Homo sapiens: one gene and its partners. The protein of the gene in region 4 purifies or fractionates together with the protein of the main gene of each other region. This does not show direct contact. Each region holds a gene or a part of one and is shown on either strand. Other genes may lie near its edges. The genes, in order: NAPEPLD, ITGAM, CEACAM1, CLEC4M and CNTNAP1.

Evidence for each region.
Region 1: the proteins of CLEC4M (region 4) and NAPEPLD purify together in Homo sapiens (affinity purification with mass spectrometry; one large-scale study listed by BioGRID and IntAct). This does not show direct contact.
Region 2: the proteins of CLEC4M (region 4) and ITGAM purify together in Homo sapiens (co-immunoprecipitation; one study listed by IntAct). This does not show direct contact.
Region 3: the proteins of CLEC4M (region 4) and CEACAM1 purify together in Homo sapiens (co-immunoprecipitation; one study listed by IntAct). This does not show direct contact.
Region 5: the proteins of CLEC4M (region 4) and CNTNAP1 purify together in Homo sapiens (affinity purification with mass spectrometry; one large-scale study listed by BioGRID and IntAct). This does not show direct contact.

What each region holds. Positions count from the first base shown.
Region 1 is NC_000007.14:103,101,686-103,104,112, forward strand, and holds part of NAPEPLD (N-acyl-phosphatidylethanolamine-hydrolyzing phospholipase D), read right to left. Parts: intron 1,870-2,427; coding exon 1,744-1,869; 3' UTR 1-1,743. UniProt on the Homo sapiens protein: D-type phospholipase that hydrolyzes N-acyl-phosphatidylethanolamines (NAPEs) to produce bioactive N-acylethanolamines/fatty acid ethanolamides (NAEs/FAEs) and phosphatidic acid.
Region 2 is NC_000016.10:31,329,461-31,332,975, reverse strand, and holds the end of ITGAM (integrin alpha-M isoform 2 precursor), read right to left. Parts: intron 3,179-3,515; coding exon 3,071-3,178; intron 2,896-3,070; coding exon 2,812-2,895; intron 2,669-2,811; coding exon 2,555-2,668; intron 2,473-2,554; coding exon 2,371-2,472; intron 1,812-2,370; coding exon 1,701-1,811; intron 1,341-1,700; coding exon 1,269-1,340; 3' UTR 99-1,268; downstream 1-98.
Region 3 is NC_000019.10:42,525,681-42,529,683, forward strand, and holds the start of CEACAM1 (cell adhesion molecule CEACAM1 isoform 1 precursor), read right to left. Parts: upstream 2,802-4,003; 5' UTR 2,695-2,801; coding exon 2,631-2,694; intron 1,721-2,630; coding exon 1,361-1,720; intron 190-1,360; exon of another isoform or gene 1-189.
Region 4 is NC_000019.10:7,761,858-7,766,050, forward strand, and holds the start of CLEC4M (C-type lectin domain family 4 member M), read left to right. Parts: upstream 1-1,385; 5' UTR 1,386-1,409; coding exon 1,410-1,455; intron 1,456-1,535; coding exon 1,536-1,619; intron 1,620-3,327; coding exon 3,328-3,411; intron 3,412-3,780; coding exon 3,781-4,193.
Region 5 is NC_000017.11:42,681,025-42,685,330, reverse strand, and holds the start of CNTNAP1 (contactin-associated protein 1 precursor), read right to left. Parts: upstream 2,801-4,306; 5' UTR 2,502-2,800; coding exon 2,435-2,501; intron 1,511-2,434; coding exon 1,409-1,510; intron 1,296-1,408; coding exon 1,102-1,295; intron 341-1,101; coding exon 193-340; intron 115-192; coding exon 1-114. Other genes in the region: CCR10 (C-C chemokine receptor type 10), read left to right, coding at 3,508-3,531. UniProt on the Homo sapiens protein: Required, with CNTNAP2, for radial and longitudinal organization of myelinated axons. Plays a role in the formation of functional distinct domains critical for saltatory conduction of nerve impulses in myelinated nerve fibers.

The DNA of each region.
Region 1 (2,427 bases), on a different chromosome or scaffold from region 4:
CACAGTGAGCACTGGTGACTTGTTTCAGGTTACACAAAAAAATCCATGATGAAAGCAGGGTAAAAGTTCAGATTTAGTGGCTAACGTGGCACCACACATACAGGTGTGCAAATAAATTATAGAGCACTGCCTGGGTAGCATTTGGTGTAGAAAACCTATTTTGATTATTTTGTATGAATAAAGTGCTGAGACTGGATTAGGAATACAGAATGGGCCTCCAGTGGTATCTAATCCACCTCCCTCCCTTAGGAAGGGTCAGAATAATCAAGTGAATACAGAGTCCTTATTAGGACTAAATCTTATGTCAACTGACTCCCCCCCCGCCCCCCAACCACTGGCATTCATACTGGCTTACCAAAAGAATCATGCTTAAGGTTCATTTAATATAAAAATGTAAGACATCTGAATCAGGTAAAAAAAATTATAAATCTGATTGATATATTTAGAGCTAAGAGACTCCAGGAAAAAAAAAATGTGTAGAGAAAATTAAAAACAAATTTAATTCAAAGAATATGGTCTATTAACATTTTGTCTGTAAAATATTTCATTGTAGCTGTATTTGTGCTTAGAAGATCTTCTAGATTTAAAAACAGAAAATGGCATAAATCATATTCTCATAGCCACACTCCTTCCCTTCCTCTGCTCAGCTAAGGAGAGGGCTTTCTTTTGAGACAGGGTCTCATTTTGTCGCCCAGGCTGGAGTGCAGTGGTACGATCACAGCTCACTGCAGCCTCTATCTCCTGGGCTCAAGTGATCCTCCCACCTCAGCCTCCCAAGTACCTGTGACTACAGGTACACACCACCTCACCCGGCTTTTTCTTTTTTCTTTTTTTTTTTCCGAGAGAGACGGGAGGTCACCATGTTGCCCAGGTTGATGTCAAACTCCTGGGTTCAAGTGACCCACCCACCTTGGCCTCCCAAAGTAAGAGGTCTTTTGGGAATTGTAGACGTGCAATAGAATATACTGTTCCCTCTCATCTGAAGGCTCTAGGAAAAAAAGAATATACTGTTCTTTTAAAAATTTAAGTGAATGGTGGTCATGGGTGCATTAATGCGAAAGAACTGTACACTTAAAAATGGTTAAAATGGTAAATGTTTAAAATGGCAAATATGTATTTATATATTTTACCACAATAGAGAAAATCAAGTCTTTAAAAATGATAGCCCCTATGTTTTTATGCTTACCTAAATAAACCATATTTAATATTTGGCATATAAGCTAATTTGATAGAGCAAGAATTGCTATGTTTATAATAAGCATGTTGGACTGAATTTCATCATTTATTAGAATGTGCATATAAGAAAGATACTTGTATTTGTAGGCCTCTGAAAAACATCTAGGTAGGTAGAGAGCCTTGACTCACCTTGCCGAAGGTCCTGAAGAATGGAAAAAAGAAAAATGAATCTTCAATATCGGTTTTTCACCTCAGGAAATTCTAGTACCACAAAAATATAATGTTTTAGTAAAAACATTTCCATTGCAGTGCTTATATCATGATATGAAATTTAAAATCCACATTAGCCAATTCATTATTTAAATGACCCACCCCTGAACCCTCTCATAGTGTACATGAGCTGATCATACTAGGAAGCAAGTTATTACACAAAACATAAAACATAAACTTGCAGAAGTTGTTTCCAAATGTAAAATAATCACAATATTCATGAATTTCTAAGTCTTTTCATTTGTTTTTAAACTTAGATGATGCCTTTTTCATTAAAAGTGCCTGTGCTCACATTTATTAAAAGTTTTCATCATCATTATTTAGGTATCTTGATTCTCCATGCTTCAAGACAAAAAAATCTTCAGCGTTAAGTCCGTATCTCTCTAGAGCTTCATTCAGCTTCACTGGAGGCTCTAAGTAATGCTGGCCAAAGAGAAAGAAGAAAAATAGAAAAAGATTAAACATATATTTGGGAGATTTTCCAAATAACAGTTCAAACTAAAATAACCAACAGATGCCTAGTTAGAATTAGGCCCTTTCTTTTAATTGAAGCATTAGCAAATGGGTCTATCACATTTTCTAATACAGTTTTGAGTCATGAATTAAGTCAACAGGTATTTGGTTGGATAGAAATCATGCCAACACCATGTATGTGAAATTTGGTGCCATCTTACTTTGAACATCACTGGATTGCATGAAATCATCACGGTTTCACCATATGAAATTCCAATCTAGATGGAATCAGTGCCAAAGATGATGTTATTAGAGAATTACATGTTACTAACATTTTTGAAAAATATAGAAATCAAATTGTGGTGTGTGTGTGTGTGTAACCAAATGCTAGAGCAAATTGTTTTGCTGAAGAAGGGTTGTTATCCTCAAAAAGTCTAGTCACATACAGAAACCACAGTCTACAGAATGAAAGAGGATCCCAGAGAATATGAAGGTTGAGCTCTGTGTGGCAAAGAGGAGTCAAGATTT
Region 2 (3,515 bases), on a different chromosome or scaffold from region 4:
CACCTCTTAAATACGCTTGTTTCACCCAAATTCTTGGGTTTGCTTCTGGGAGAACCCAAACTTCCAGGAACATATCCTATAAATTATCCTTACATATATGCAAAAATGACATATATTTGATTTATTAACTCAGCATTGATGCAATAACAAGAGAATGAAAATAGTATATCAAAAGAAGACTGGTTAAATACATTATGGTACACTCACACAATGGAATACTATGCAGCGGTATAAAAGAATGAAAAAGTAATTTATGTCTTAATATGAACCGATGTCTGAGAAATATTGGTGAAAAAAAGCAAGATACAGACCAATATAAAGTATGCTACCATTTGTGTAAAAAAGCTTGTGTGTGTGTATGTGTGGTGTGTGTGCACACGTGCATACACTTGCACATCGCCTGGAATCTGTCTGAAGGAAACCTCAAAACACAATCTTGACTACCTTTAAGGAGGTGACTTGAATATCTGGAAAGGGAGACTTTTCACTGTACACTTGAATGCCTTGTGATTTTTGTACCATAGACAAGCTTATCCATCCAAAAAATTAAAGTCACATTGAAATAATAAATGAATCCAGAAAGGAAGCTTCATCATTCCTCAGTGGGCATCTTTATTGGGCATCAGCGCTGGTGTGGAGGAGGTTCCTGGTTCCACCCACGGCTTCTCATGGAGTCTCCATCCAAGCTGCGCAGGCTCCAGCAGGCCGCAGGCTCGCAGGCGACGGGAAGTCCCACTTCTTTCAGTGGAGAGAAGCTGCTGTGTTTCCCTCTGTCTTCACCCACAGGATTGACCGTCCCCTCTCCCGGAGGAAAACCCAGCAGCGGCTTCACCCACGCACAAGGGAGCCCAGGCAGTTCCCTTCTGCCGGAGAGGCTACGCTGCCGTCACCTACCCACACGCCAGAGACATCTGAGTCACACACGTGAGCCACACGCCCCTGAGCACACACATGCACACACTCGCACACATGCACACACTTGCACACACATGGACACACGCACACACACTTGGACACACTCACATACTTGCACACACTCACACATGGGCGTGCAAGTGCACATGCACGCACACGCACACATGTGCACACACTTGCACACAGACACTTGCACACACGCACATACACACTTGCACACACACAAATGGAAGCCCAAGCCCGTCCTGTCGGGGATACTTCGCTGTCCGACGTGTCCAGCAGCCTGGGGGCTACGTGTGGTCTGGGCAGAGTCCTGCTGGCCACCGAGAGGCAGCTCTGTCGGGAAGGAGCCGCTACTGGGGTTCGGCCCCCGGGGGACCCCCTTCACTCATCATGTCCTTGTATTGCCGCTTGAAGAAGCCGAGCTGCGGGGCAGAGGAGGGCAGTGAGAGCGACAGCAGCCAGGGAGCGTGCGGCTCCGCAGACCAGGGGGAGGGGGCGGGAGGGCCGGCAGAGACAGAAGGGACCCAGGAGGGCGGGGCGGGAGGGGAGTGACATCCGCGTCGGGGCCTGGAGAAAAACAGAAACTACAAGGAGGGCGACTCGTTCTCAGCGCGCCCCGCGCATGAACCCGGCCACCCTCCCTAAGAGACTGAGGCGCAGAGAGGCTCCCAGACTCGCCCCAGTCACACAGCTGGCAGCCCCGCCGGGGAAACCGAGGCACGGAGCTGCAGCGCGAGGCCCGAGAGGATGAAGGGAGGGGGTGGGGGAGCAGCGGGGAGCACCTTGTACAGCGCGGCGGTGATGAGGGCCAGGAGCAGCAGTCCCCCGACAGAGCTGCCCACGATGAGCGGCAGGGGGTTGGGGACCTCGAACGGCTCCACTTTGGTCTCCGTCTGGGGGAGGAAGGAGGGGCGTCAGGGGAGACGACTCTGGATTTCTGGGGGTTCCCCATTCACACCGTGTGCACCCCTGAATCAAGTGGGGAACCCCTCCTCATGTCCCCCAGAACCCCAGCCCTCAGTCCTCCTCCCCCACCTCTTCTCCCTCCTCTCCCTCCTCCGTTTCTCTGTCCTCTATCTCTCTCTATCGCTTTCTGCCTCTCTCTGTCTCTCTATCTCCATGGCTCACTGTCTCTGTCTCTGTCGCGCTCTGTATCTCTCTCTTTATCTCTATCTCTCTGTCTATCTCCATCTCTCACTGTCTCTGTCTCTATCTCTATCTCTCTGACTCTCTATCTCTCTCTCCTTTGTCTGTCTCTGTGTCTGTTTCTCCCTCTGCCTCTATCTCTCTGTCTCTGTCTGTCTCTCTCCTTACGTCTCTGTATCTCTCTGTCTCTCTGTCGCTCTGTCTCTCTCTCTCCCTCTCTCTTTGTGTCTCTCTCTCCTCCCCCAGAAATCTCCACAAGCGCAGCCCCTCTCCCTCCAATAGTTCCTCAGCGCCCAAGACAGGTACCTGGGACCTCACAAACGCCCCCTGTCCCGGCAGCAGGGTGAACACGGAATCGTTAAACAAGATCTCAGCTGTGCTCACGATCAGGAGGTGGTTATGCGAGGTCTGTGGAAGAGAGCGGGTGGGCACTGCACCTGGGCCCTGAGCACCACGCCTGTGCCCGGCGAAGCCTCAGGACCCCACACACCTTGATGTACCAGTCAAACGAGAGGTTGCCTTTGAGGGTAGCATTGAATTCTTCCTGGATGCCAAAGAACGGGATGTCACACTGGATTCTCTGGCAGACAGCGATGGAGCAGTTCTGGGGAACGCAGGAGGGGAGGGGACGGGTAAGGAAGCCGAAGGCAGAGAACACCCCTCCCCGTTTGCTCAGAGACCATACAGGTTCCAGCAGGGAAGCGCTCTGGGTCTCTGTGTGGCCCTGGGGCTGACTTAGCTTCTCACCACCACGGGGGCCTTCCGAAGCTCAGCCAGAAAGTCGGAGTGAGAGGGCAAGCGCTCCTTGGTGTGGCACGTACTCGAGAGGTTCTGAGGAAAGAGACGCACTGAGAAGGGGCAGAGATGAAGGCGCCAGGGCCTCATCTCGGGAGGTGAGATGGCCTGGGTCCAGGAGAGGGGCGGAGCGGCTCTAAAACCCAATAGCATTAACAGAGGTGAGAGGAACGCGCAGGGCCGTGCAGGAGTCAGGCCGAGCTCCGCTCACCTCGGAGAAGGTGACCTGGGGGCGGTCCCATATGACAGTCTGGTTCAGCCGGACGGGCACCAAGAACACCAGGCTGATGGGGAGGCTCCTCTGCCCCAGGTTGCTGACCTGCACCGGGGAGGGCGGGGTCAGGGCTCTGGCCTTCCTCCCCCACCAGCCTGGAGAATCAGCCTCCCCTCCCCACGGGGCAGGCCATAGGCCCGGGCGTCCTGCCCCTTCCTGTTTGAGAGAGTAGAGTGTACATGTAATACGCATTCCAGTGCCACACGGCCTGGTCTCCAGTCCTAGCTCTCCCACTTACTCGGTGGGAGACCTCGAGCTTGTTCTGTAAACCTCTCTGAGCCTCAGTTTCTTCATCTGTAAACTGGGGATCATGACAGTGCCCCACAGAGTCGCTACGAAGGTAATACAAGATAACTACGTGCGTGCATGTCACATACATACG
Region 3 (4,003 bases), about 35 Mb from region 4:
TGGGGTCCACAGATGCCAAATAAGGCCCCTGGAGTAGAGGAGAGGTTAAGACTGTGGCTGAAGACAAATCTCCTGTAACTGATCTTCCAGTTACGGTCTGTGTGACCTTGATATAGTGACTGTATTTATTGCCATGTGGCTCAGTTTCCCCTCAGTGAAATAGTATAAATGGTTAATGGTTTTGGCTTATCTTGTGGTCTGTGAATTAACCTTAAAATATTTATAATTATTTGACCTCAGCTCTGCATAGGGGAGCTGCCCAAATAAACAATCTTATTTTATTTTATTTTTTTGAGATGGAGTCTCGCTCTGTCACCCAGGCTAGGGTGCAGTGGTGTGATCTTGGCTCACTGCAACCTCTGCCTCCCAGGTTCAAGCAATTCTCCTGCCTCAGCCTCCTGAGTAGCTGGGATTACAGGCACGCACCACCATGCCCGGCTAATTTTTTTGTATTTTTAGTAGAGACGGCATTTCACCATGTTGGTCAGGCTGGTCTTGAACTCCTGACCTCATAGTCCATCCACCTCGGCCTCCCAAAGTACTGGGATTACAGGCGTGAGCCACCGCTCCCGGCCGCAGCATCTATTGTTGTTGGATTCCCTGAGAGTGCCTCTCAGCCTGATCCCTGGTGGACAAGGAGCTTTCAGGAGCATCCTGTCTCCTCTGTTCCTCCTCCTGGGGATGGTAAACTTCCTATGGCATCTCCTAAGCCCCCAGGGCAGTTGGCTGATGGCCTGGGGAGCTTGTCCATCTGTCCTCTCCAGGCTGAGACTAAGGTGAAGGATGAGGCTCCATCCTTGCCCAAATGAGGCTCTAGTGCCTGAACCCTGGCTGGTTACCAGCTCCAGGAGCCACAGCCCTCGGATAGCTCAAATTCTTGTTCCTAGTCAGCCCTGCCCAGGAGGCCACAATCTAGCCCTGGCCCAGGCTCCTCAGGGTCACCAGGAGTTGAGAACCTTGGGATAGTGTTTTGGAGCAGGGGATTCCCAGGGCTGAGCTTGTCTGTGAGGATCCCAGAAGGCCCTTCAGGCCAGACCCTGACTGAGTCCTACTGGGTCTTTCTTAGGGACATGTTCACCAGGAGGGTCCCGGGGGGCTAGATTGAGACTGGTCTCCCCTCGATAAGTTACCCACATCAGATTGTCCTTCCTCTGAAGCAAATGTCTGCAGGATCAGGACTCCAGAGTAAGACATTCGGTATTTTGATGTCTGTCCCATAGTGTGTCCTGCACTAGATGCTCAAACCTTAACATGGGGTATAATGCAGAGGAGGACACAGGCACAGCCCAGGCCTGACAATCCCATGTGTGGGAAGTAGAACTAACCCCCCAACACCCAGAGGTCATGGGGAAATACTCACGGTATACATGGAACTGTCCAGTTGCTTCTTCATTCACAAGATCTGACTTTATGACTTGTAGGGTGTAGAATCCTGTGTCATTCTGGGTGACGTTCTGGATCAGCAGGGATGCATTGGGGTATATTGTCTCTCGACCGCTGTTTGCGGGCCCTGGGGTAGCTTGTTGAGTTCCTATTGCATATCCTACAATTTGACGGTTGCCATCCACTCTTTCCCCTTTGTACCAGCTGTAGCCAAAAAGTTGCTGGGGCAGATTGTGGACAAGGAGAAGAACCTCCTTCCCCTCTGCAACATTGAATGGCATGGATTCAGTAGTGAGCTGGGCAGTGGTGGGCGGGTTCCAGAAGGTTAGAAGTGAGGCTAGGAGAGAGGAGAGAGCATCAGTCAATATTGGGACCTATGCATTAGGGTAGAAAAATGGGGCCTTGGGTCCTGAGCAGGTGTCTTCACCCCTCCACCTTGGAGTGTGTGTGTGTGTGTGTGTGTGTGTGTGTGTGTGTGTGTGTGTCCTACTGGGTCAAGGTCAGCAGTGTGACTCCCATTCCCTTAGTGCCTCTGACCTTGTCATTTCTCTGGAATGCCCTTCCCCAGGGATCCGCATGGCTCCCTCCCCACTGCCCTCAGATCTTGATCACATCAGGGTGCTCTTGGGAGATCCTTTCCCTGACACCTCCCCTAGAGACCCTGGGTATTCCCTTTCTGACCTTTTTCTGCTCTGTTCCCTCCAGGGCTCTTGTCAACACCTGACCTCACATTCTAGATCTCTTTGCTTGTCTGTCTTCCCCACCCATGAGAGCGTGAGCTCCGTGAGGGCAGGGATTTGTGTGATGTTGGTTGCACCCCAGTGCCTGGGATAGGCTGCAGACTCCTGTGGATGAGTTAGTGAGCATTCCCAGGGCTCTTCATGTCCTGGGGTTTATTTGCCAATATCTGAGGTTGGTGGCTCAGGGCTCTGTTTAATGCCCCTTTTAAAATGTTTTCCTTAATTGTCACGCTGACTTAAATTGTGATTATTGTCAGCAGTTTTTGAAATTTATTGCTCATTGATGATTCAGTTGGAAAAGGTAAAAAATGGGAGATTGTTTATTCACTAACAGTTTCAGATCACTGAGACTTTCCTTTTATGATCTCTATCCCTTTCATGTCCTCTCTCCTATTTGGCTCCAAGAGAAGCCCTCTGTCCCCTCTTAGAGCTCCATCCTCCCCAGAGGACCCTAGCCATTCTCTGTGCGCCCTCTTTCCGCCCCTTCCCAGGGTGTCCTCCCCTCACCTGTGAGCAGAAGCCCCTGCCAGGGTACACGCACTCTGTGAAGTGGGGCTGAGAGGTGCCCCATGGTGTCTCCTGCTGGCCCTGTCTTCACCTGTGGAGGAGAGCTTGGGCTCCAGGAACGCTTCGAGCACGGCTGCTCTGTCACCTCTGCTGTTTTCCACTCTCTGTGCTGAGCCTCCTCCCTGGGGCCCAGAGCTTTGTCTGATCATGTGTGCTGGGGCGGGGTTTGTCCAGGAAGCTCTGTTTCCTCTCCTCTCATTCCTACCTTTGTCCTTACTTTCTCTTTCCTTTCTGTCTACATTTTGGTTTCCCAGACCACACTTTGAGAATCAAGGCTGATGAGACCTCTGTCCCCATCAGGGGAGGAGGATCCCCCCTCTCCAGCACTGACCTCTATTGTGTCCTGGCTATGGGTCTGTCAGCAGCACACAGAGAACCCTGGCATATCCAAATGTGGTAATTATTTTCTTTGCAACACAGTGAGCTGCCAGGTCTCCCCATGCTCTTCAGTGTGCTGGGAAGGTAGGAAGACACCCAGCAGGAAGGTGACAGAGGTGGCTCTGGGGGATGGAAAGGGGCTCACTGGGGGATGACTGGGGAGGGACCAGCCCTCTGTCTCTAGTGTCACCAGCCTGGCCTCTAACCCAGGGACAGAGACCCAAGTCCAGGGGTCTCAGGTGGAGCTGCAGCTCCCGGATATGGAGGGGGAGGTGTCCTGTGTGTCCTGGGAAGAGAGGACTGTGATAGAGGGAGGTGGGTGGCTCTGGGCTCTACTGTCCTTGGGGAAGACTTCAGGGGGACCCTCCCTCCCTTGAGCTGAGGCTCAAGGCCTGTCCATGTTCTCCCTGACCATCCTGGGTGGTCTCTGTCCTCTGCGAGGCTGATTGTCCTGTGGTCACCGCACCTTCCCCACAGGTGGTGCCAGGAGGGAATGGGGAGCTGCACAGGGACCCCTCACAGAACAGGGTCCTCAGAGGACCCAGGAAGGGACAGAGCAGGTACATGGGAGGGCCTGGAAGGGTGTTTTGGAGCAAGGGATGGAAAGTGGGCTCTACCTTCACCTCCTTAGCAAAGCCAGGTTCATGACCAGGGGAATGTTTCCTGAGTGTTGTCTGTGTGCAATGTCTCCCCCTGGAGGGCAAGACAAGGCCTGCAGCCTTGTCAAGGGCTGCCCCAGGGATGCTGACCAGGGTCTACATGATGTGAGCTGGCCCTGACCCCTGGGCAGATGTGGGCTCTGACCTCCAGGCTTCAAGGTCAAGTCACCCCAGGTCCTGTTCACTGCGGGTCCCCAGGCTGCCCAGCTCCATGCGGTGCAGGATGAGCCCAGGGAGAGGACGTGAGTTGTCCAGAGGACTTCTGTCAAGATTGGA
Region 4 (4,193 bases):
GGGAGGTGGAGGTCGCAGTGAGCCAAGATTGCACCACTGCATTCCAGCCTGGGCAACACAGCGAGACTCCGTCTCCAATAAATAAATAAAAATACAAAAATTAGCCAGATGTGGTGGCGCACACCTGTAGTCACAGCTACTCGGGAGGTTGAGGCAGAAGAATCACTTGAACCCAGGAGGCGGAGGTTGCAGGGAGCCCAGATCAGCCACTGCACTCCAGCCTGGGTGACAGAGCGAGACTCTGTCTCAAAAAAAAAAAAAAAAAAAGAAAGAAAGAAAGAAAGAGAAGAAATTTTGACATATGAATTCATCCATGCAGCCACTTCTCAGAAAAAAATATGGAACATTGTCAGCAGAAAATTTCCTTCTACCCCATTCTGGTCAGTTTACACCCACTCCTTCCAGAAAGCCCCCAATTTGAGTCCCATCAAAGGTTAGTTCTTCTGCCTATTCTTGAAATTCATGTAAACTCAAAATCTTACAGAATGTATTCATTCTGTTTGGGTTTCTTAACTCTTGTGAGATTCATCCAAATTGTTGTTTGTATCAGTACTTTGCTTTTTCATTACTGTATAGAATTCCACCCTCTGAATATGCCATGATATTTGTTTTCATTCACCTGCTGGTGGCCACATGGGTTGTTCCAATTTGGGTTGGGATAGTCTAACTAAAGTTACTATAAATCTTTCTATTTTGCCCTTGATGTTATTAGACCCTCTTTGGTTAACTGGGTGGAGTGTGGAGGAAAACTGCCTGGATTCGAATCTCAGCTCCACCATTTACCAGCTGTGTGACCTTGGGCTAGTTTCTTAATCTCGCAGTGCCTCTATTTTCCCCTATCTGTAAACTGGAGGTCACATGATCTACTGCAGGGTAGGAAAGTTAAATGAAGGAGTTTTATAAAGCTGTTGGAAATGTGCCTATCATAGGTATGAAATAAACAACTATCGTTCATCTCCAACTCCCAAAAACAAAGGAAATTCCCATGAATGAGAGCATCCGCAGACCAAAAGAGCAGATCCTGGAGGTCAGAGGGCATGGTGGTTCCAGGAACTAGGCGGTACTGCCTGCCCACCCCTGCCCTACGTAGGGAGGCATAACAAAGTCGCTTTCCATTAGAATGAATTGAATTTTATTAAAAGCATCCCATCGCTCAACCATGTCATGAGTGGAGGAGTCCTTCTCCCTGTCAACCCCAGACCATCCCCCAACACCTCCCTGAAATTCCTGCAAGGTCAGGCCGATCTCAGGCTCTGACTCCTTTCACTAGCCTTTCTGGTGATGTGATCTTACCCAGCTTCCTGTTTGTCTTCCTGAGAGACAGTAGATTTAGAAAGTGAGGATCAGAGGGTGGAAAATAAAAGCTGTGGTCCCCAGGAGTCCTGAACATCTGGGGACAGCGGGAAAACATGAGTGACTCCAAGGAACCAAGGGTGCAGCAGCTGGGCCTCCTGGGTAAGGCTGGGTTGGAACTCTGGGATCCTGGGTAAGGGGAAGGGATGGCCCAGGCTCTGAGCTGATGTCTGTCAATTCAGAAGAAGATCCAACAACCAGTGGCATCAGACTTTTTCCAAGAGACTTTCAATTCCAGCAGATACATGGCCACAAGAGCTCTACAGGTAGGCAAGAGTTAGGGAGCAGATAGTGGAAGACAGAGCCTCCCAGACCCCTGGGTCCTGGGGAGGTAGGTGTTGGGGTCTGGAATCCTGGGTTCTGGGGAAGGAAGGTCTGAGACCTGGGTTCCTGGGTCCTGAAGAGGACGGGGTAGGGATCTGAACTCCTCACACCTGGGGAGGTGGGGGTTGAGGCTTGGGTTCCTGGGGCCTGGGGAGGTGGGAGAGGGGTTCTGGACTCCTGGGACCTACAGAGGTGGGGGTTGGAAGCTGGACACCTGGGTCCATGGGAGGTAGGGACTGGAGCCTGGACTCCTGGAACCAGAGGAGGTGGGAGAAGGGGCCTGGATTCCTGGGTCCTGGGGCAGGTGAGAACTGGGGACTGGAATCCTGGGTCCTGGGGAGGTGGGAGCTGGGACCAGATTACTGGGTCCTGGGGAAGGTGAGAACTGGGGCCTGAATTCGTGGGTCCTGGGGAGGTAGAAGCAGGTATCTGGGTTCCTAGGACCTGGGGAGGTGGGAGCTTGGGCCTGGGTTCCTCCTGGGACCTGGAGATGTGGAGGCTGGGACCTGGATGCCTGAGTCCTGGTGTTGCAGGATAATTTAGGAATCACAGAGATCAAGGGGTTGAGGAGGATTTATTATTATTATTATTATTTAGGTGCACCAGCCCAGTCAGATTAACATCCAAAAAGACTGAGCCCCAAACAAAGAGTCAAGTTACCTTTTAAGCATTTCATGGGGTAGGGGGAGATCTGTGCAGGGGGAAGCATATTACAGAAGCGAGAAACAAAGATAGTTATTCAATTGAGACATGCATTACGTCATTTCTTATTTTTCAAGGAAAAACATGTTTTACAACTTGAGTTTATCTGCCTAGTGACCTTGCAGCTGCACAGCTAGAGAAACAGGGTCTTCACAATGCCTGGGAAAGGGAGAGATAAGGCTCACTAGCCACACACAGAAAAACAGGCAGTTAATTCTTTTTTATTTTATTTATTTAGTTTTTATTTTTATTTATTTATTTATTTTTTTTGAGACAGAGTCTTGCTCTGTCACCCAGGCTGGAATGCAGTGGCGCCATCTCGGCTCACTGCAAGATCTGCCTCCCAGGTTCATGCCATTCTCTTGCCTCACCCTCCCGAGTAGCTGGGACTACAGGCGCCCACCACCACCACGCCCGGCTAATTTTTTGTATTTTTAGTAGAGATAGGGTTTCACTGTGTTAGCCAGGATGGTCTTGATCTCCTGACCTTGTGATCTGCCTGCCTCAGCCTCCCAAAGTGCTGGGATTACAAGTGTGAGCCACCATGCCTGGCCAAAAAGGCAGTTAATTTTTAAAGGATTCCACCTCTTTCTCTTCCTCAGGGGGAATTGGGTTTTCTTACATACAACTGAGTTTTTGCTTACACATTCTTTAATTTCTTTTCATTCCTGTTCCACTGGGGAGGTGGACGCAGGTACCTGGGTTCCTGGGACCTGGGGAGGTGGGGGTTGGGACCTAAACTCCTGGGACTTGGGGAGGGAGAGGCTGGGGATGGGGTTCCTGGGTCCTGGGGAGGTTAGAGCTAGGGCCTGGATTCCCAGGTGTTGGAGTGGAGGGGGCTGGGGCTGGGGTTCCTGGGTCCTGGGGTGCTGAGGGATTAGGCCAGGCTCTCCCTGGGCCAGGCTCAGGTGGGAACACTGGCAGGCTGACGCATGTATCCTCTCTCAGGGTGTCTTGGCCATGGCGCCCTGGTGCTGCAACTCCTCTCCTTCATGCTCTTGGCTGGGGTCCTGGTGGCCATCCTTGTCCAAGGTCAGGGGCAGGTTCTGAGGGTCTGGGGTCCCCAGGCCTGGCCTTTTGGCTATGAACAGAGCCTGGAGTGGCCAGGTCTGGGAGGGAGGTGGGACTGAGAGCCAAGATGTTGTCCCTGGGGGTCTGTAGGGGCCTCTCCCACAGCCCCTCCCCACTCTAGAGCAGGACAGGAGAGGGAGGAGGAGGAGGGGAAGAACCTGGCTCTCCTTGGCCTTCTGTGCTGCCTTCTCCAGGTGTCAGTTTTCCTCATCTTCAAAGGGGATTAACTGAGACCTTGGCTCTCACAAATGATGTCTCTATGGGGCTCAGTTCAGGGCTTGGCACACAGTAGGTGTTTAATAATTGCAGTTCCTTTTCTTCTTGGCCCAGTGTCCAAGGTCCCCAGCTCCCTAAGTCAGGAACAATCCGAGCAAGACGCAATCTACCAGAACCTGACCCAGCTTAAAGCTGCAGTGGGTGAGCTCTCAGAGAAATCCAAGCTGCAGGAGATCTACCAGGAGCTGACCCAGCTGAAGGCTGCAGTGGGTGAGTTGCCAGAGAAATCCAAGCTGCAGGAGATCTACCAGGAGCTGACCCGGCTGAAGGCTGCAGTGGGTGAGTTGCCAGAGAAATCCAAGCTGCAGGAGATCTACCAGGAGCTGACCCGGCTGAAGGCTGCAGTGGGTGAGTTGCCAGAGAAATCCAAGCTGCAGGAGATCTACCAGGAGCTGACCCGGCTGAAGGCTGCAGTGGGTGAGTTGCCAGAGAAATCCAAGCTGCAGGAGATCTACCAGGAGCTGACG
Region 5 (4,306 bases), on a different chromosome or scaffold from region 4:
CCTTCTCCTCGGTCTTGAAGCTGAAGGCGAACACGTCCCACAGGCTTCGGCTGACCCCTCGCGGGAAGCGGTAGGAGATGGCATCGTCGCCGTCGAAATAGAGTATGTCGGCCTCTGCGCAAAGGACCGTAGGTGGGCCGGGAACTGGGGAGGCTGTCTCCCAGGCCCCCTCCGCGCTCTCTGCACACTTACTGTATGGGCAGCCATAGAGGCCGAGCCTCAGGCCGATCTTGCCGCGTGGGTTCCAGGCCAGGGGCACGATGCGGATGTAGCGCGCAGTGAAGTGGAAGTGCAGGTCATGGCGCACCACCGCCGACTCGTTCACGTTACCAAAGAAGGTCTGCGGGGGTGGAGGAGAGTAGTAACCACGTCCTGCCCTCTGCTTCTTTTTTTTATTTTATTTTTTGAGACAGAGTCTCGCTCTGTCGCCCAGGCTGGAGTGCGGTGGTACGATCTCGGCTCACCGCAACCTCTGCCTCCCGGGTTCAAACAATTCTCTTCCTCAGCCTCCCAAGTAGCTGGGATTACAGGCGCCCGCCACTACGCCCGGCTGATTTTTTTGTATTTTTCATAGAGACGGGGTTTCACCATGTTGGCCAGGCTGGTCATGAACTCCTGACCTCGTGATCCACCTGCCTCGGCCTCCCAAAGTGCTGGGATTACAGGCGTGAGCCACTGCGCCCGGCCCCCCTCTGCTTCTTTCTCCATAGCCTCCCAGCCCACAACTTTCACACCCAGCCAATCTCGACTTCTGGAAAGTAAACACTCCTTGGTCTTCCCTGCTTGGCGGCTTTGCCCGCACAGTTTCCATAAAGTGCCCTGTCCCACAATCCTATTATTTCCTCAGACCTGAAATCAAATGTCACCTCCTTAGGAAGCTCTCCCAGGTTTTACCCTAAAGTGTGTTAAACCCTGTGAACCGAGTGTTTCGCGCACGTCCTAAGCTGACAGTCCCTCTGGACAGAGTCCCTGGAGTGGAGTCACTGCTCCTTGTCCGAGCCCTCACCACCACCCCCTCCATTTTCCCAGAGGCTGGTGCCCGGCCCAGAGCCTGGAGCAGAGGAAGCTCCCCAAGTGTTACCGCCTTGGCGCCCAGAGTACCGAGTTGTGCCCTCGCTGGTAGAACGGTGTCCAGCTGTCCACTCGGTCGCCGTAGAGTAGCATGTAACGTGTGACCCAGTCCCAAGAATTAAAGGAGCCCTGTGTGGCCACGGCCCGGATCCGGTGCTTCTTCATTAAGTCTATCTGGAGCCAGGGATTCGGATCCCCAATCCGTGGTGACCACCCGCTTATGCCTATAGAAAGGACAGGAGCTTTAACCGGCTATCCCTCTCCCCGAAGTCCTCCGGAGGCCCCCACCCTTCCGCGGTGCGCTGCCAGTTGGCAGCTGATGTTCCGCGGAGCTCACCGTGCAGCCTGGCGAATCTCGGCGCAGTAAGGAGACTGTAGTAGGAGGAGGCGCCCAGGGAGCGTGCATACAGGGGACCCACCAGCTCCTCGTCGCAGCCGTCTAGGGTAGGGAAACCGACTGTTAGTCAGCGCTGGCCCCTCCCAGACCCTTCCAAAGGCCGGCCCACTTAGCGACCGAAGCTTCCCCTTCCGTGCCCCCAACCCCCGCCCCCAGAGGCACACCCAGCCCTACCTTAAAGCCATCTATTCAATCCTGGCTGCAGCAACAGCTGCATGCTCAGAGGAGGCTACCTTCTCCTTCTAGGCAAACCCCTAGGCTACACCTATAGGCCCAAGGCCAGACCCTCCCTAGCTAGCCCAATACCTGCCCTGGTTTAGTACTTTCCCAAACTCAATCCTAAACCTCAGCATCTTCCACAACCTAAGTCAACCCAAGACACCAATCCAGCTCCAACCCTAGCCTCAATCCAACTCGGCCCCCAAAACCTGCACCATCCCCAAATACAGGCCTTGCACCCAACCTCAGCCAGTGCTAGCACCATCACCAGCTCCATGTCCAGCCTTAGCATCAGTCAGGGGCACCAGCTCCTGCTTGGATCCCTGCCACAAAACCCAGCCCCAGCCACAAACCCCAGCCCTAGCCACAAACCCCACCCCTTGGCCAGCTCCAAAGTCCAGCCTTAAGCCCTGGCAAAACCTTAATCCTAGTATCGGTCACCAGTATACACTTATCCCCCAGCCCTAGCCTCAAACCCAGGCACCAGCTCCTGCTTGGATCCCAACCCCAAATCCCTGCCCGCTGACTTCATCCTCTTCCCAGAGCCCAGCCCCAGCCCCGGGCGCGCGCGGCAGCCTCAGAGCTGCAATGCGGAGCGCGGGGGAGAGGCAGGAAAAGATGAGAGCCAGCGGGCGCGCGCCGGCCGGGAAGGACCCGCGACCACCCAGCCGCAATGCGGTTCGGGGCCGCCCTGCAGGCTCTGGACTCCTGGGCCCAACCCCACCTGCCTCCAAGCCCAACACTCACAGTAGCCCCAGCCCTCGGCTCCTGAGACCGCGGCGAGCAGGATGCAGAAGAGCCGGAGATGCATCATGCAGGGCTGACGGTCCCGGCAGCCGCCTCCCTGTGAACGGCTCCGGCTAGGGCTCGAGTTCTGGCTTGGGCTCCAAGCTCTCCTCCTGGGGTTTGCAGCAGACCGCTCTCTCCTCCTTACCCACCCTTCCCTCCCTCTCTCCTTTCGCCCCCAAGCGCTCTGTCTCTCCTCTCTCTTTTCTCTCTCTCTCTCTCTGGTTCCTGGTCCTCCGCTCTTCTCTCTCTATCCTCTCCTTTCCACCCTCTTTCCTCTCACCTCCCCCCTTCCCCAGCCTCTGTCTCCTGGCACGCGCCGGTTTCCCGGACCCCGCGCAAGCGCGTGCCTCAGCCCTGCTGCGAAAGGGCGGGGGTAGAGAGCCTCTCGCCACCGGGAAAACCCCAAGTAACCCGAGGCTGCCCGGGACTAGGGCCACAGGAGTGAGGACAGGGAACCTAGGGCCAGAAGCATCCTGAAAATTTCAAGAAAAGGGAGGTGGTTTGGGGGAGGGGTGCCTGGAAATGGAATGAAGGGTAAGTAAAAGAATCTTAACATTTTCGGAAGGCAAATTATGCTCTAGGAGTGGTGCTGGGCACTGTGAATTTAGCATTTTTGCCCTACTCCACTTTGCAGATGAAAAACCTCAGGCTCAGAGAGGTCAAGAAACTTAGTCAATATCACACAGCAAATGATTATATTCCGAAGCCCGTTCTTTCTTCACTGACAAAGACAGTAAATTATTTTTTCTTTCTTTCGTTCATTCTTTTTTCTTTCTTTCCTTCCTTTTTTTCTTTCTTTCTTTCTTTCTTTCCTCTTTCCTTCCTTTCTTCTTCTTTTTTTTTTTTTCGTAAAATCCAGATCCTGCACAAGAGAGTGAAGTCTTTTGGAGGAGGTGGAATGGGAAAGTGACCCCGTAGACCCTAATCCCCACCTCCCTCTCGGCCCCTCTCCCCGCCTCTTCCTTCCTGTCCCGCTAGTAGTTTAACTTCTACCCCCTGTGGCTATACCTCAGAAACCTGTGTAGCCAGAGATGGGGACGGAGGCCACAGAGCAGGTGGGAGTGGGGGCAGGGAGGGGGAGAAGGGTTACAGAGAGGGAGGAGACAGGGAAGGAATGGGATTCCCCACCTGGCAATGGGCCTCTGCCATCCTATGGCTTATTCAGGATTCTTGGCGCTGTCTCAGACTAGGGGTCCTCCAGATAAATGGGCTGGTGGTGTGAGGCTGGGGTTGTGGGACAGGGACTAGGGCTGAGGGGAAAGGCGGGTTGAACCTAGAGGTCCAGGGTCCCACCTGGGCCCTGAAAACCTGAGTCCCAACCCTGGAGACCCCCTTGGCATGAGTGGTTCAGTGTGCTGGTATTGGAGGTACAGGGAAGGTGGGTATGGAAGGGAAAGAAGAGAAACAGAAACCCACTCCAGACGGAGGTTGGAGTCCAGGGCTCAGGTCTGAGGCAAAGCCTGCATATGGGCATCCTTCCAGGAGAGGGCGCTGCAAAGGGAACTGAAGCTGTAGGATTTATTAATAATACAAACTTTGGGCTGGGCGTGGTAGCTCAGGCCTGTAATCCCAGTACTTTGGGAGGCCAAGGTGGGCGGATCACCTGAGGTCAGGAGTTCGAGACCATCCTGGCCAACATGGTGAAACCCCATCTCTACTAAAAATACAAAAATTAGCTGGGCGTGGTGGTGGGCGCCTGTAGTCCCAGCTACTTGGGAGGCTGAGGCAGGAGAATCTCTTGAACCCGGAGGCGGAGGTTGCAGTGAGCCGAGATCGTGCCACTGCACTCCAGCCTGGGCGACAGAGCAAGACTCTGTCTCCAATAATAAT